Regions from separate parts of the Homo sapiens genome. Here region 2 is linked to region 1. A link means that fine-mapping ties the variant in region 1 to the expression of a gene that starts in the linked region. Tissue or cell type: whole blood. Region 1 holds a variant in brackets; the other region holds the start of a gene. All regions are shown on one strand. Distances are between the middles of the regions.

Evidence for each region. PIP is the estimated chance that this variant, and not a neighbour inherited with it, causes the effect.
Region 2: TRIM38 starts here. The variant in region 1 is fine-mapped to the expression of TRIM38 in whole blood (INTERVAL, PIP above 0.99).

Annotation. Positions count from the first base shown.
Region 1 is chr6:25,894,366-25,902,472 of GRCh38, reverse strand. No RefSeq gene overlaps it. Among named protein-coding and RNA genes, the nearest start is that of SLC17A3, 24 kb to the right of the region's middle. RefSeq lists an enhancer at 3,768-4,357. The variant TGA/A (reference allele first, on the strand shown) is at 3,270.
Region 2 is chr6:25,958,541-25,966,647 of GRCh38, reverse strand. TRIM38 (tripartite motif containing 38) reads right to left here and starts at 3,846. Exons shown (of 8, transcript NM_006355.5): 1 at 3,793-3,846; 2 at 3,366-3,599; 3 at 1-313. The coding sequence starts at 125. RefSeq lists a cis regulatory region at 7,674-7,978.

The DNA.
Region 1 (8,107 bases):
GATAATACTAGGTCATTTTTCCTGTTTCCCCAACTTCATTTTCTATAGCAATAAAAAGAAACAAGTAAATGTATATTAATTTAATTTAAAAGAAGTAGTCTACCATCTCTTCTGTTAAAAAGAAAAAAGTATTTTAAAAAATTATCTCTGGAAGGATACACAGGGAACATTGCTCTGGTTTCTTCCAAGAGAGAAATGAGGAACTAGAGAGCATGGCCAAGTGGGGTTTTGCTTTTGTTTTTGTTTGTCTATCTGTTAGCTTTTTATTATTTTCTTTTGTAGGTTTGAATTTCAAACCACATAAATCTGTTACATGCTCATAATAATAAGTTTAAAATAAAACTTTTGGCTGGGTGCAATGACTTACACCTGTAATCCCAGCGCTTTGGGAAGCAGAGGTGGGAGGATACTTGAGGCCAGGAATTTGAGATCAGCCTGGGCAACATAGTGAGACCCTGCCTCTGTAGAAATAAACAAAAATTAGCTGGATATGGTGGTGCATGCTTGTACTCCTAGCTACTTGGGAGGTTGAGGCAGGAGGATCCTTTGAGTCCAGGAGTTTGAGGCTGCAGTGAGCTATAATCACCCACTGCACTATAGCATGGGCAATAAGGTGAGAACTTGTCTCAAAAAAAAAAAAAGGGGGGGGGAAACAAATAAATAAATATAAACAAAACTTTTGTTTCAAAATATGTAATATTTAGCACTAAAGAATTCTGAATTGTAGAGCTAAAAAGTACTTAAAAGTTAATAACTATTGTCTCCTTTAAAAGAATTGTTATCAAAGTATAATTTTTATCCAGAAAATCATCCATATCAGCAAGCTAAACTTTCTCAAAATGACATATCCATGTAATTAGCTCCCAGGTAATTAGCAGGCAGCCTCTACTCAGGTTGAGTATTCCTAATCTAAAAATTGGAAATTCAAAATGCTCCAAAATCGGCAACTTTTTGAATGCTAACATGATTCTCAAAGGAGTGCTCATGGAATATTTCAGATTTTGGATTTTTGGATTTGAGATACTCAGTATAATGCAAACATTCCAAATCTGAAAAAATCTGAAATACTTCTGGTTCTAAGCATAAGGGATACTCAACGTGTGTTAGCTAATTAGACCCTTCATGGTCTCTTCTAGACCTCAGCTTCTTCAAGGTAACCTCTATCCTCACTTCTAATAGCATGAACTTTTCTGTTTTAGAATAATTTGGATTTTCAGGAAAGTTGCAAAGATAGTACAAAGACAGTACAGGAGAGTTCCCATATATCTTTCACCTAGCTTTCCCCCATTGTTAGGATTTTACATTATTATGATACATTTGTCAAATATAAGCAACTCACATTGATACATGAAACTCTATTAACCAAACCCTAGACTTTATGTGGATTTCACCACTGTTTCCACTAATGTTTTCTTTCTGTTCCAAGGTCCAATCTGGAATACCACACTGCATTTTCTTGTCATATCTCCCTAGTCTTTTTTTGTCTGTGACAATGTCTCAGTCTTTTCTTGCTTTTCATGACCTTAACAGTCCTGAAGATCATTTGCTTTTTTTTCATAATTACACCGGAGTTATAGATTTTTTGAAATAATACCACAAGGGCAAAGGGCCCTTCTTGTCACATCATTTTAGGGAGAACATGATATCCACATGACATCACTGATATTAACCTTCATCATGTGGTTTAGGTAATGTTTCAGGTTTCTCTACTGCAAAGTGATTTTTTTCCCTTAATTTAGCCCACCTGAACTTATCAATTTTGTTTTCTTCCATGACTAATACTTTTGTTATTATAGCTAAAACTTCATTGGGGCCAAATCTTAGATCATGTAAATTTTCTTCTATATTTTATTCTAAAAGCTTGTAATGTTTGATACATTCTAAAAGATGTAATGTTTGATACATTACATCTAGTCCTTTGATTTATTTTTAGTTACTTTTGTATAAGGTGTGAGAGATGTCTCCAGTTTCACTTTATTAACACATTGTGGTGTTCCAGTACTATTTGTTGCTAAGACTATCTTTTTTCCATTGATTACCTTTGCCTTAGTTGGCAATATTTTTGTTGGTTTATTTCTAGACTGTTTATCTCATTCCACTGATTTGTGTCTATCTTTTTGACAAAACTGTTGATTACAGTAAGCTTTGAAATAGTTCATTTTTTGTGTCAACTTGACTGAGTCAGGGGATAACCAGCTATCTGGTTAAACATTATTTCTGGCTGTGTTTGTGAGCGTGTTTCTGGATGAGATTAGCCTTTGAATAGGTGATCCTAGTAAAGTAAACTGTCTTTCCCAGTGTGGATGGCATTATGCCACCTGATATTCAGGGTCTGAATAGAAGAAAAGGCAGAGGAAGGGGGAATTTGGGCCTTTTTTTCTGCCTCACTGCTTGAGCTGGGACATCTCATCTGGTCTCCTGCTCTTGAACTGGGATTTACATCATCAGTTCCTCTGGTTCTCAGGCCTTCAGATTCAGACTGAATCATACCACCAGCTTTCCTGGGTCTCCAGCTTGCAGATTACAGATCATGGGACTCCTCATCTTCCATAAATGCATGAGCCAATTCAGTCTATGTCCTTGAAAACTGCCCCACTGCAGATTAAGGCTTTTTTCCACTAGGTGAAATAAAGAAGCTTGTTAGACAGATTTCCCTTCATCCAGTGCCCTCTCCTCTTTAAGTTACAACACATTGGCTACACCTAAGTGCAGGGGTGGGGATGAGGGTATAGTCCTCTTGTTTGCTGAGAAGAGAACTGTATTGGGAAAGCTCTAGAAGTGTTTGATACATACATAAACAAGGCATGGTTTTTGCACTTAATTTCACATTACATTTTTCCCAGAAAAAAAGGAATGTATAGGCATCACGTAACTGTACTAGCTGGAGTCATTCTTCCTGATTATCAAAGGTAAACAGTTATTAATCCTATACCAAGATGTCAAGGAGAAGTACTTTTGGAACACAAGGAATTCTCTGGGAGTCCTTACTACTCTCAAGCCCAGTGAAAAAGTTAATGAAAAACTATAGTACCTTCCTATAAGCTGGATGACTAATTACCAGGCTCATTTAGGAATTTGCCTTACCAAGTAAAACATAAGGGCAGCTGAGGTGCTGACTGAAGACAAATGGAGCATAGAATAAGAGTAGTAAAGAATGCCAAAAATGCTGTCATGTATCCATTGACAAAAGGAGCTATAAAGCCTTTAGGTATTTTCACACTTGCTCTGTTACGTAAATGTATGTGTGTGTGTGTGTGTGTGTGTGTGTG[TGA/A]TCGTTTATTTTTTCCTTCTTTCCCACTAAGATGTATTAATACTGATTAACACTATAAGTTAAGCTTATAGGATAGGCTATCAAAAAATGATTGTGACTGAGCTGAAAAGAACATTACTCAGGATGGATACAGTGAGTTTCAGATGTTTGTATTCTACTTGGGAGCTACAGACAATAAAAAAGTAAAAACATATACAGTTTGTCAGCTACTGATAAGTGCTATGGAAAAAATTAAAGAAGGAAACGGGGATAGGGTGGGATTAGGTGTGGTAGCCATTCTAACCTTGGTGCTGAAATCTATCAGTATTCTGTTCAGCGATCCACTGTCTGCTACCTGGCCATATCCCCCTGGGAAGTGTGAGCCACATTACTAGCTTCATGTGGTGAATTCTGACTGGTCCACACCAGTCATGTGGTCCCTTCTTCTGTAGCTGATTAGCTCAGGCAGCACCTGAGACTAGGCCAAGTTTTGGCAAATGAGACATAAGGGGGAGTTTTCTGGAAAGGCATTCCTTGATCTCCAAGAGAAACGCACTGTTTCTTCCTGCCTTTAACTTGTGTCTGCATGGACACTTGAAACTGTGACCAGCATGGGGGGTAAAGCCTGCTGTGAAGGAGAGCAGAGGCAAGAAGACTGAGGGCAGTGGAGCCAGAGCTCTGATCACCCTGCTCTGGAACCTTTCTGCCTTTGATGTCCTGTTTGGGGAGATAAGAAATTTATATAGTGTTTAAATTTGTTGAGTCAGCGTTTTCTGTACCTGCAGTCAAAAACATGCTGAGTGATTCAAGAAGTTGGTCAGAACTTCAAAAAATTATTATTCTACATTTTCCCCCAAGTTTTTCTGAGGAAAGAGAGTGCTTGGTAGGCAGGATAACCCTGGAAAGTGGCCATGGGGCTGAGGCGGGTTTTGGAGAAATGCAGACACTGTTGTCTGATGTGAGTTTCACCTGATGAGGGATCAGGATCTTCTTTCATATAATTTGGGAAAGCAGATGTTGGTCCCTTTAGATCTGTTAACTGACATTTAGCATTCAAAACTGTCTCGTGATTCACAGAAGTGTTGTAAGATATTATGCAGATTTTAGCACAGCATTCAACCATTCAATCAGATTTTTATAAAGACTTTTTTTTTTTTTTTTTTTTTTTTTTTTTGAGACGGAGTCTTGCTCTGTCGCCCAGGCTGGAGTGCAGTGGCGGGATCTCGGCTCACTGCAGCTCCGCTCCCGGGTCACGCCATTCTCCTGCCTCAGCCTCCCAAGTAGCTGGGACTACAGGCGCCCGCCACCTACGCCCGGCTAATTTTTTGTATTTTTAGTAGAGACGGGGTTTCACCGTTTTAGCCGGGATGGTCTCGATCTCCTGACCTCGTGATCCGCCCGCCTCGGCCTCCCAAAGTGCTGGGATTACAGGCGTGACCCCGCGCCCGGCCTTATAAAGACTTTTTAGATAAAAACAGAATCTATATCTCTAATGTATGTATTAAGGATGAACCCCGGCTGGGCGCAGTGGCTCACACCTGTAATCCCAGCACTTTGGGAGGCCGAGGCGGGTAGATCACTTGAGGTCAGGAGTTCGAGACCAGCCTGGCCAACACGGCGAAACCCTGTCTCTACTAAAAATACAAAAATTAGCTGGGCATGGTGGCAGGCACCTGTAATCCCAGCTGCTTGGGAGACTGAGGCAGGAGAATCGTTTGAACCTGGGACGTGGGGATTGCAGTGAGCCAAGACTGCACCACTGCACTCCAGCCTGGGCGACAGGGTGAGACAACGTCTCAAAAAATAAAAAATAAAATAAAATAAAAAATGAACCCCTCTCTGTCTTACTCTCTGAATGAGTGAGTCTGAAATCCAGTGGGTTTGGCCAAGCAAGGTAGATGTCTGTGTATATATGGGGGAAGGATGTTTAGTGACAGTTGCCTGGAGTGGAGTGAAGAAACCTAAGCAGAGTGAGAGAGAGGCAACAGTGGAGGCCCAGTGAGAGTACTGCAACTTGAATAGGGTGATGAAGCTGTCTTCAAAGGGGGACAAGAGAACAGCCCTGTGTTAATGTTGGAGCCTGACTGGAGTGAAGAGATTATCCATGTGACAGGTAGGCCCATAGCACAGACATTGGCACTTAAGCAGGGTGAGGAGAGCATCCACATAGAGGTGGTAGCTACAAGATGATGGTCATACACAATCAAGATTGGTCCAATGATTAATATAACAAGGATTATTAGAGTTGCCCAGAAATGTGGTCGATCAACTGTGGCCATCAATTACTAAATAGCATAAAAATATCTCAAGGAGAGAAGGCAAAAACTGAGGACTCCACATACAGAAACCTGTCCTTAACATCCTACAGAGAATAATGATAGGCCAAGAAATATTTTTTTGCCCACTGAGTTCACAGTCTCAGATCCCCAAATTGTTCCTGAGTGGAGTTAGATGGATTATAAGAGACCTCCTTATTCATAATAGGCCCAAGTTGGCCTAGAGAGGGAGCAGAATTGGTTTAATGATTCCACTCCAGACTTTCCTGGGATTTTTCACTTCTTCCTGCTCTCCATGCCCTCTTATCACAGTTGCTTGACTGGAAAAATAACAAGTGGCAAGAGAGATGCCTTGCCTTTTTCTTAGAATTCCAGACTCACTTCTCAAGTCACTGAGCTTCTGTTAGTGCAGATATTGCAATGACACTTCCACGTGCATGTGATCGGGACATTTAATGGATCAGCTGCTCAGAGCACTCCTCCAAAGTGGCACTTCCCTTTTTCCAAATTTGGGTCCTGAGGTGAACACCTCCCCAGAGGTATTCATAACAACGTTGAAGTTGTAGAGGTGATGCTCCTTCAGAGGCCAACAAAGAAAAGCTTGGAGGCATATTACATTTTGGATTCCAGTTCCTACATAACTATAAAATAAATTCTGCATCCTTAGACTAAATCAACATAATTGAAGTTAAGCATGGTTCAGATTAAAGAGTAAGCTCATGAGTTTGTTAAACCATTACTTGAGAATGCAGGAAATGAACAAGACATGCAGTCTATGTATTCCAGTTGGTTGTTGGTTTGATAAGCAATTCACAGGCAGTAGATCAACAGGCAGGAAAATATAATAGTTAATATGACTGCAACACTTATTTTGGAAACTTAGATGGCTCTTTGAAAATCTTCTTTTCCAACTAAAATTACTGATATTCATATTATTCAAAAATGACAACCTCTGTGCCATCTGAGATTTGTTGATTCAGCATTTCTAAAAATAGTTCTTAGAATAAAATAGAGTACTTAGCTTGACACTTAGCTATTGACAGTGCCCGGATAGCCTACTTAAATGTATGCTTTCAGAACACTGCTAAACACCTTGCTTTCAACACCCCATTCACTTTCAACACCTCATTCCTCACCCATGACCCCACCTGCTCTCATTTCTGCAAGAAAACAATAGAAATTAGAGCAGTTGGGGTCATGAGTGAGGATATCACTCACTTCTGATGATCATTTAGTTGTTAGGGGTTAAAAATGCCTCTACTATTGCCCTAGAGATGTCCTCCAAATCACTGACACCTACTCTACAAGCTTTGAGCCTGGTGCTTTAGATTTTTTGTCAATAGATAGTGTGAATATATCAAGACTGCCACTAGACAAAGGAAGTTCTAAAATGCTATCAGTTTTGTCCATGGATTTCAACAATCCATGGGCAAAAATGTGATACAATACATGACTTAGAATCAATTAAATATTGGTATTTTAGGACATCCTCTTAAGTGCATGCCAGAATTTCACACAAATTGCACTACAGGGGAGAAACATGCCTGTTCATGGATATTTCAAAGAAACAAATAAAAAAAAAACCTTTGAGACATTTTTATGATTTAGACTGTGTATTATCTTTGCAGTCATATCAAACTAAAGTTCTTGAAGCTGAATTTCTCAGAGAACAGGTGGAAGTCATTGATGAGAAAAACATATTATTAATATTATTTCTCCATTCTTTGACCACAGAATAAGTTGAGGAAGATGATAGAATAAAGGAAGTAGAAGTGGGCCTATAGACAAGTCAGTTTTGTAAGAATAAAAGGAAAATAAGTTTCAAATCTAAAGAATCGATGGAGAAACTAGTATACATATTTATTAAATCAATGCATATAAGAGAAGCAAAGAGATTAAATGATTGAGCAATCATTTGATAATGTGAGCTTTTTAAAAGACTAAATGAAAGAAATACCACCTTTTTCTGTTGAGAATAAATCATAAGTGTGTTAAATGTGAGATTATTAACATAAATAAAATGTATAAAATAAGTGCAGCAGAGAAAGTTTTTAGAAACTTTTCTGACAATGTTACCCAATAAGAAATATAGTATTATCGTGCAACTCAGGACATACTCAGAAACACAAACACATATAAATAAAATAGAATACTTACAAAACAGTTACCTTTATTTCAGAGTGAAATACACTCTGAAATTTTTAATTTTATTGAATAAGGCCTTGATTTATCCTATTATATATCTCATTTAAAAAATATATTGTTCATATCAATTCAAATTGATTTCACTAGTGAGACATAATTAGTGCTTTGGAAAACTCTTGTTTTATGGTCTTAGAGCCCTCCAAGTTACCAAAGGTTCCTACAAGCTTGGCCAATGGGAGAACTCTACCTCCATCAGCTGGGATGATATGTTCAAGAATTAGGGAAGTGACCAGAGTTAAGCCAATAAAAGTCCTTCAGGAGATTCTCTGATCTGGAGGCTGAACCCAAATACCTCTTCTTCTCTTATAGTAAAGATATAAGGATGACACTCCAGACTGCCAGGCAAAGGGCTTTTCTCTCCTAGAAAAGACTAACT
Region 2 (8,107 bases), 64 kb before region 1:
TCTGTTATACACAAGTGGCAGTAGCTGTGTCCACAGTTGATGCTTACTGGGTTCGTCATCAGGCTCAGGCAGATGGAGCAGGTGGCTTCCTCCATCATCTTCTTGGTGCTGGTGGTTGAGGCCATAGCTTTTATTGAAAAGCTCCAATATTGGCTCTAGAGATGGAGATGAAGCAGCCAGAATTTTCCACCGTGATGAAAATACACCTCACCTGCACCTCTATGTGATGAGCTGGCTGCAACTGACTTCCATAGGTCTTGAAGGTTTTCCTTCCAACCCCTATTATCTCATTTTGTATTGAAGAAAAGAGGACCTAAAAGGAAGAAGTTGAGGCTGAGGTTGTTTGGGCCACGTTTGAGAACTGCAACCCAAGTGCAGAGTTTCAAGTTGCCCTCATTAGCAAGCAGTTACAAGTGGTTGTTTAGAGGAAAAAAAGCAGTTTTAAAGCAGTTTTAAAGTTGTTTGCCAAGAATTTACATTAAAATAGCATAAGCTTTTGACTGGCTATACATTGTTCTTTGTATTACAAATCTCGGGAATATGTAGGTAATAGATGAGGCAGCCAGTCAGGAACAAAATGCTTTTAAACATGGGGTCTTAACTGAAGACCTATACTCCTGCCTCACTTGTCCTGATAAATTTTGCATACCTCACATAGCTCAGACTGCTCTAAATTATTTCATTATTTTTCTTTTCTCAGTCTTCTAACTTTTTTTTTTTTTTTTAATGAGACGGAGTCTCACTCTGTCACCCAGGCTGGAGTGCAGTGACGCTATCTCGGCTCACTGCACCTCCGCCTCCCGGGTTCAAGCGATTCTCCTGCCTCAGCCTCCCGAGTAGTAGCTGGGTCTACAGGTGTGCACCACTACGCCCAGCTAATTTTTGTATTTTTAGTAGAGATGGGGTTTCACCATGTTGGTTGGCTCGATCTCTTGACCTTGTGATCCACCCGCCTCAGCCTCCCAAAGTGCCAGGATTACAGGCATGAGCCACCGTGCCCAGCCTCTTTTTCTTTTCTTATAAGACAAGTTCTCGCTCTCTTGCCCAGGCTGTAGTGGAGGGCAGTGGCATGACCACAGCTCACTGCAGCCTCGACCTCCTGGGTTTAAGCAATCCTCCTGCCTCACCCTGGCAGAGTGGCTGGGACTACAGGTATGTGCCACCATGTCCAGCTAAAGTCTTCTCTCCAGAAAGAAGAAATGCATTGGAATTTAGAGGATACACAAACATCTAGCTGTATAGCTAATACAGTAGCCACTATCATGAGTAGGAATTTAAATTTAACTTAATAAAAATTAAAATGAAAAAATTCAGTTTTTCTGTTCCAGTTGCCACATTTTGATTGCTTAATAGTTGCATGTGACTAGTGGCTACATAACAGCCTCAATATACAACATTCTGTTATCACAGAAAGTTACCTTGGACCAAGTGCTGGGAGAAGCAATGCAGGCTTCCTCACAAAAGCTGTAAAAGAGAGAACTCAGGGAGTGTGAAACTCTTTCCTATTCTAGTTAACTTCAAGAATAATTGTTACCAGGCCAGCACGGTGGCTCACGCCTGTAATCCTAGCACTTTGGGAAGCCGAGGCGGGCAGATCACCTGAGGTCAGGAGTTTGAGACCAGCCTGACCAACATGGCAAAACCTCATCTCTACTAAAAATACAAAAAGTTAGCTAGATGTGGTGGTGCACACCTGTAATCCCAGCTGCTCAGGAGGCTGAGGAAGGAGAATGACTTGAGCTCCGGAGGGGGAGGTTGCAGTGAGCCCAGATTACACCACTGCACTCCAGCCTGGGTGAAAGAGCGAGAATCTGTCTTAAAAAAAAAAAAAAGAATAATTGGTACCAGAATTACTCTTTGTAATTAGTAGTAACACTTATGCAATTGGGTGATCTGTGACAGATTCCATTGAAGGAGTATGGGGAGCTTCACCCCAATATATGACTCCCTGGTATAATGAGTATTTTGAATTAAAGGCCCTTAGAGATCAGCAGATGCTGGAAGAGACTTTTCCCCTATCTACATAAAGACCAGTCACACTAGACAAGAAGAACAATTGTTTTTCCTTCCAACCCCTATTATCTCATTTTGTACTGAAGAAAAGAGGACTAAGAATGTAACCAGACCTAATCAGACACTTTCACAAAATAATGTCTGTCTCTCAGGCTCATTCATTTTCCAAAGAGAACCATTTACAAGTTAAACTCTGTTCCTCCATTCATTCATCCTCCCAAATATTCATTTATTCTCCCTAGTAATCATTTACTGCCCCTCAAAGAATTACCTATATTCTCCTGATATCACCCTTCCCCTCTGAAATAAATATGTATACATGTATAAACGTTATACATACATATTTATACAGTATACATACATATTTATACATACATACATATGCATACATATTTATATTTATGTATTTATACATAAGTATTTATAAATAAGGCTATATAAGTATCTACCCCCATTGGCAGAGGGGGTAATCACTCTGTGATTCTAGCCCATGTACTTGTTAATAAATTTGTATGCCTTTTCTCCAATTAGCCTGCCTTTTGTGAGTCGATTTTTCAGTGAACTTCAGAAGGCAAAGGGGAAGTGTTCCCTTGGCTCCTACACCATCATGACAATAAAATTTGACTCCACCTCGACCCCCCCCATCCCCCACAAAGAACAACAACCAACACTGGTTAATAAGGTCGGTTGTTTTTTGTTTGTGTTTTTGTTGTTGTTGTTTTTGCTTTCAGGAGCAGAGGTATAATAGGCAAAAGAAAGAGAAAGGAGAATAGTGAATACCTCTTCTGCAGAGAGGGGTGCCTAAGTGGGACTTCCCTGGCTAATAACGTCTTGCTAGAGACCCAACCAGGAGGATAATGGAAGCAATCAAGGCAACCAGAACAACCAGAAGAACCGGTTTATCCTTTTTGTGCCCTCTCCCTAAACTGAGGGAATAAGAATTGGAAAGAAGGCTGCAGAGCAGAGGGTTTGCTCCTGAGGAGCAGTTATTTCTATGGGATCAGAGCTCCTGCAGAACTGGGGAGTTTACTTTTACTATCTCTTCTCCAGGACAGGACCTATCTCAAGAGACATGTTCAGAGTGATTGCAACATAAAGAGTTTGCAGACCCAAGGAGGTAGGGAAGGCAGAAAGAAGATGGGGGAGGCCAGGGATAGGCAACAGAGGAGTGACCAGGAGCGAAAAAGCCTGCCTCTTCTGAGAACCTAGCTGGGCTCTCCCTGTACCCCCGATCCCTCCCCCCCGCCCGCCCCCACACCCCTACTCCTGGGAGCTCCTCTAGGACAGGGGCAGAGTCAGGAGGAAGTTTGAAGAGTGCCTAGAATAAAAAACAGTAATTTAACTACAATTACCGGGTAGGCTGTTTTCCTCTCACAATTTGATCAGTCTCTTGAAGCCACACAGAATTTCTTCTGAAGACGTGTATTCCTTGGCAGGCTATTTCCTCCAGTGATACACCAGGCCCCTCTCTGCTGGGGTCACTGCTCTTCTGGGGAGATGGGGCTCCCCTCCTTCCAAGGCTCCAGGGTTCCTGTCCTGGGCCCCACTCATCTAAGTTCTGAATCTTCTGAGATTTGGTGTAAAGTCTGGTGAAAGAAAGAGCAGGAAAGAGGTGAGAGCTGTAAAACAAAGAAAGTCCTGACCATTTTCAGAGTTGGAGGGGCCCTGCTGTCACGAAATATATTCCCCACCCCACTTGCCATCAGTACACACTCACATATCCACTGAGAAAACCTTAGCCTGGACCTTTTCCGTAACCTTCACTGCTCAGACACTTACATATTCGCTGCTAGTCCCCTCTGTTGCTGCCACTTCCTGGGTCAGGAAGTTAACTCAGACCGGATTAAACTGAGAAGTGAAACTACTGTGGGAGGCGGGGCTCATAAGATTTAGGAGAAAACTAGTGACGTTGTTCATATCATTTGCACTCCGCCTCTCCGGTAAAGGAGGGGGAAACGTAGGAAGAAAATATCCTTCTTTTACAGCAATAAAAAGAAGGAACCAATTAATAACCCTGTAAACTATCATGTGACCCCAACACAGAGTATCTAAAAACAGGAAGCCTGCAGAGGTTCAGTTCACAGACTCTGATTTGAGATCTTTCTACTTTTGCCACCAACTCCCTTGGGAGTCCTTAAGCCTTCCTAGCTGATGTTACTTCTTTTGCTATTTATGGGTTGCTTGTGGTTCTATAACTGCTCTGAAGGGTGTGGTGGAAAAAGGGGTGGTAACAGCAGTAGGACTCATTGGCATCACAAAATTCATCTGAGTCAGCTTTCTATTCTTCTCTGTCCCGTTCTGTGTCTTGTTTTTCTCCTTGCTGTCCTTCTGCAGGACTCAGATCTTCTTCAATAGCGAGGGTCAGCCAGGATAGAAAATGGGAGTCACTAGTGGCCCAGCAGTGAGTGCCCCCAGCTTAGAGCTGTGTGGGATCCCTGGGACCATCACTCTGCTTTGTGCTTTGTGGAGAAAAGGCTGTGGGGTCCAGGGTCAAGTCCTTAATGACTTAGCTCCAGCTTCTCCACTTCAAAATGAAAGGAAAAGTACTATCACCACCCGTTAGAATTATTATTTCATGGGGAAAAAAGATGGATTACTATCTCACAATAAGAGCTTGTCACATTTATAAGTCTCAGGTGTAAGAGGCATTTATGATAACAACATAATAAATGCTGGCTTAAGTAGATGCAGTGGTCCAAGGGAACCAGTAAGGGGAGCTCAGGACACAGGTGGGAGGAGAAATTAAACTTGAATTCTGGGAGCCACTGGCCTGTCTGGGCCCCTGGCCTGCCTGCTGACCCTGATAGCCAATGGAACATGGAGTTTGGCCCAGCTGCAATCCCTCTGGTCCAACTACTCAAAATAAAGGCAAGATTGGGAAACACGTTCCTTTCTTCCTATACCAAGCAGAAGACTCTTCAGCACTGCACCCTCCTGGGTGCTCACAGAGCCTTCTGTTGTTTTGCCACCTACGATTCATCATGCCCTGGCATGATGGTTGCAGACCCCATGCATAGCATGGGACATTCTACTCCTGAGGCAACCAGCACACAGAGAGAGGAGAAAGAATGAGCCCCTGAATCCTTGGTCCCACGATGAGTCCTTGCAGATATCTACAACTTTCATTGTTGTGGATGTGACTCTGTACCCAGGCATGGCTCATTCCAGATCTGTCCTATTGTCAGAGGTGTTCAAACCAGAATGACTCCATTTTGAATGGGGGCTAGGTAAAATAAGGCTGAGACCTACTGGGCTGCATTCCCAGGAAGTTAGGCATTGTAAGTCACAGGATGAAATAGGCAGTTGGCACAAGACACAGGTCATAAAGATCTTGCTGATAAAACAGGTTGCAGTAAAGAAGCTGACCAAAACCCACCAAAATCAAGATGGCAACAAGAGTGGCCTCTAGTCATTCTCATTGCTCATTATACACGAATTATAATGTGTTAGCAAGTTAGAAGGCATTCCCACCAGCTCCATAGTGGTTTATAAATACCATGGCGATGTCAGGAAGCTACCCTATATAGTCTAAAAAGGGGAGGAACGCTTGGTTCTGGGAATTGCCCACATCTTTCCCAGAAAACATATGAATAATCCACTCCTTGTTTAGTACATAATCAAGAAATAACTGTAAGTATCTGTATTAGTCCATTTTCACACTGCTGATCCAGACATACCTGAGACTGAGTAATTTATACCAGGAAAAAATGTTTCATGCTCTTACAGTCCCACGTGTCTGGGGAGACCTCACAACCACAGCAGAAGGCAAGGAGGAGCAAGTCAGGTCTTACATGGATGGCAGCAGGCAAAGAGCTTGTGCAGGGAAATTCCTTTCTATAAAACCATCAGGTCTCATGAAACTTATTGACTATCATGAGAACAGCAGTATAAATTACTCAGGGAAAGACCTGCCCCCATGATTCAATTACCTCCCACCAGGTCCCTCCCACAATATGTGGGAATTTAAGATGAGAGTTAGGTGGGGACACAGCCAAACCATATCAGTATCCTTAGTCCAGAAGCTGATGCTCTGCCTGTAGAGTAGCCGTTCTTTTATTCCTTTACTTTCTTGCTTTCACTTTACTGTGTAGACTTGCCCCAAATTCTTTCTCACACGAGATCTAAGAACCTTCTCTTAGGGTCTGGGTTGGGACCCCCTTTCTGGTAACACTATCAAAGGATCAGGAAAAGGAAGCTAGTGAATGCTAAAAAGGAAACAAACTACCATTACCAATAATAACAGCAAGACAAAAGCAAAACGGATTGTGACAGCTGTCCCATCTCACACCTGTTTCCCATTGCAGGAAGGAGGGGCTGGTTCATGCACAGAGTGGCCAATATTAGAAGCAGAGATGGGGTGCAGATGAGACTTCAGGAATATGTTGACAAAGGCAGGCCTAGGGAGAAATCAACCTGAACTATCCCCAAGGAGGAATGCATTATCTCTAATATGTAAAGTTAGGCTTGATCCTGTGATTATGGGATATAGGAGTCCAAAGACTCACAATGGGAAGTAGGTCACTAGAGTCTCCTTCAGAAGCTCTGTACTGTGTGTTCCCACTGTGGGCAAGAGTCAGCACTCAGCTATTCCTAGAATGCCTTTCCTCAACTCCTTCAGATTTTGCCTCTCAACTAACCCTATCCTGACCACTTGTTAGCAAGTGTACCCCTCTCTCCCTCCCAAACATTTTCAAATCTATTTTGTTCCCATGGCACTTATCACTGAATATTTTACTAATTTATTTTGTTTAGTGTTTGCTTCCCTCATGAGAATGCAAAGGGATGGATTTTTTTCAATATTGTTCACTGATGAATCCCAGTAACTAGAATATTTCTAAGCATAGTGATGTGCATTAAATCAAAGAGTAACTTTCTGAATTGCACTAAACACACATCACAAGAGGTGTGTGCACATATGTGCATGATGCACGTAGTGTGGTGTGGGTGTTGTGTGGGGTATGTGGTACTGTGTGTGCTGTGTGTGGTATGTGATACATAGTTTGTGTTAGTGTGATGCATGTGATGTGGTATGTGTGTGCGTGTCCATACATATTAGGGGTGGCGGGGATGTTAATATGTCAAATGGTACTAGAAAGTATCAGAACTCATGGTGCTTACTGGTTTCCCAGAGAGCTGCTTCTCTCCCACCTGTAGGATATACTGATGGTTTGGACAGAGAAGAAATAAAAAGAAGGCTGTGACCTACTGGGCTGAGGAAATAAAAACGAAAGTAAAAGAAGAGCTGGGAAAAGAGAGTGGAGGGGCCAAGGGAAATTTCCCCTTTGGCTTCTGGGGAAACTTTGCTGAAAAATCAACTCACAAATTTATTAACATGTACACAGGGAGAACCATAGAATGATTATCCACTTCCCAAGAGGGCTTAAAAGCTTATATATTATCCTGGCAAAACAGATTATGGGAGGGGAAGAAGAGAAACTCTGTTGATGGGATTACTGTTGCGGATTTTTGCTCCTTCGCTCAGCTAGGTCCGGGTTTTTGTCTCACAGCCAGGAAGAATTAGGCATGCAGCCATCAAAGAATGAGTGGAGTAGAATTTATTAAGTGAAAGGAAAGCTCTCAGCAAAGACAAGGGTCCTGAAAGCAGATTTCTGGTTTGCTCTTCACAGTTGAATACTAGGGCTTAAGACTCAAATTCCTGACAACTCCACCCTGTCCTACCAGTGCATGCAGGCCTTTAGACTGAGCTACTCCATATTGATTAATTTCCTGAACTGTGCATGTGTTAAGGAAAGGAATCATCCACTGCAGGCATGTTTAGGCAAGCCCCCTGTGCAAGTTCCCTTATCTGCACAAAACATCCGGTGTAAGCACTTGTGGGGCAGGTCAGAGGTTCTCTGGGTACCATTCCCTTACTGTCTGCCTAAAGCAAGCTGGCCAACTCCTTTCATTACTAGGGAGAGTAAGTAGATCAGGGAACAGAGATTAACTTGAACATTATCTTGTGAAAGTCCGTTCGGGCATGGTTACATTCTTGGTCTTACAGGAAGGGTAAATAAAAATAATTGCTCTTTTTGGTGGGTCTGGATCTTAGGTAGATAAAGAAACTTTAATTCCACGATGTGTTTTGGTAGGG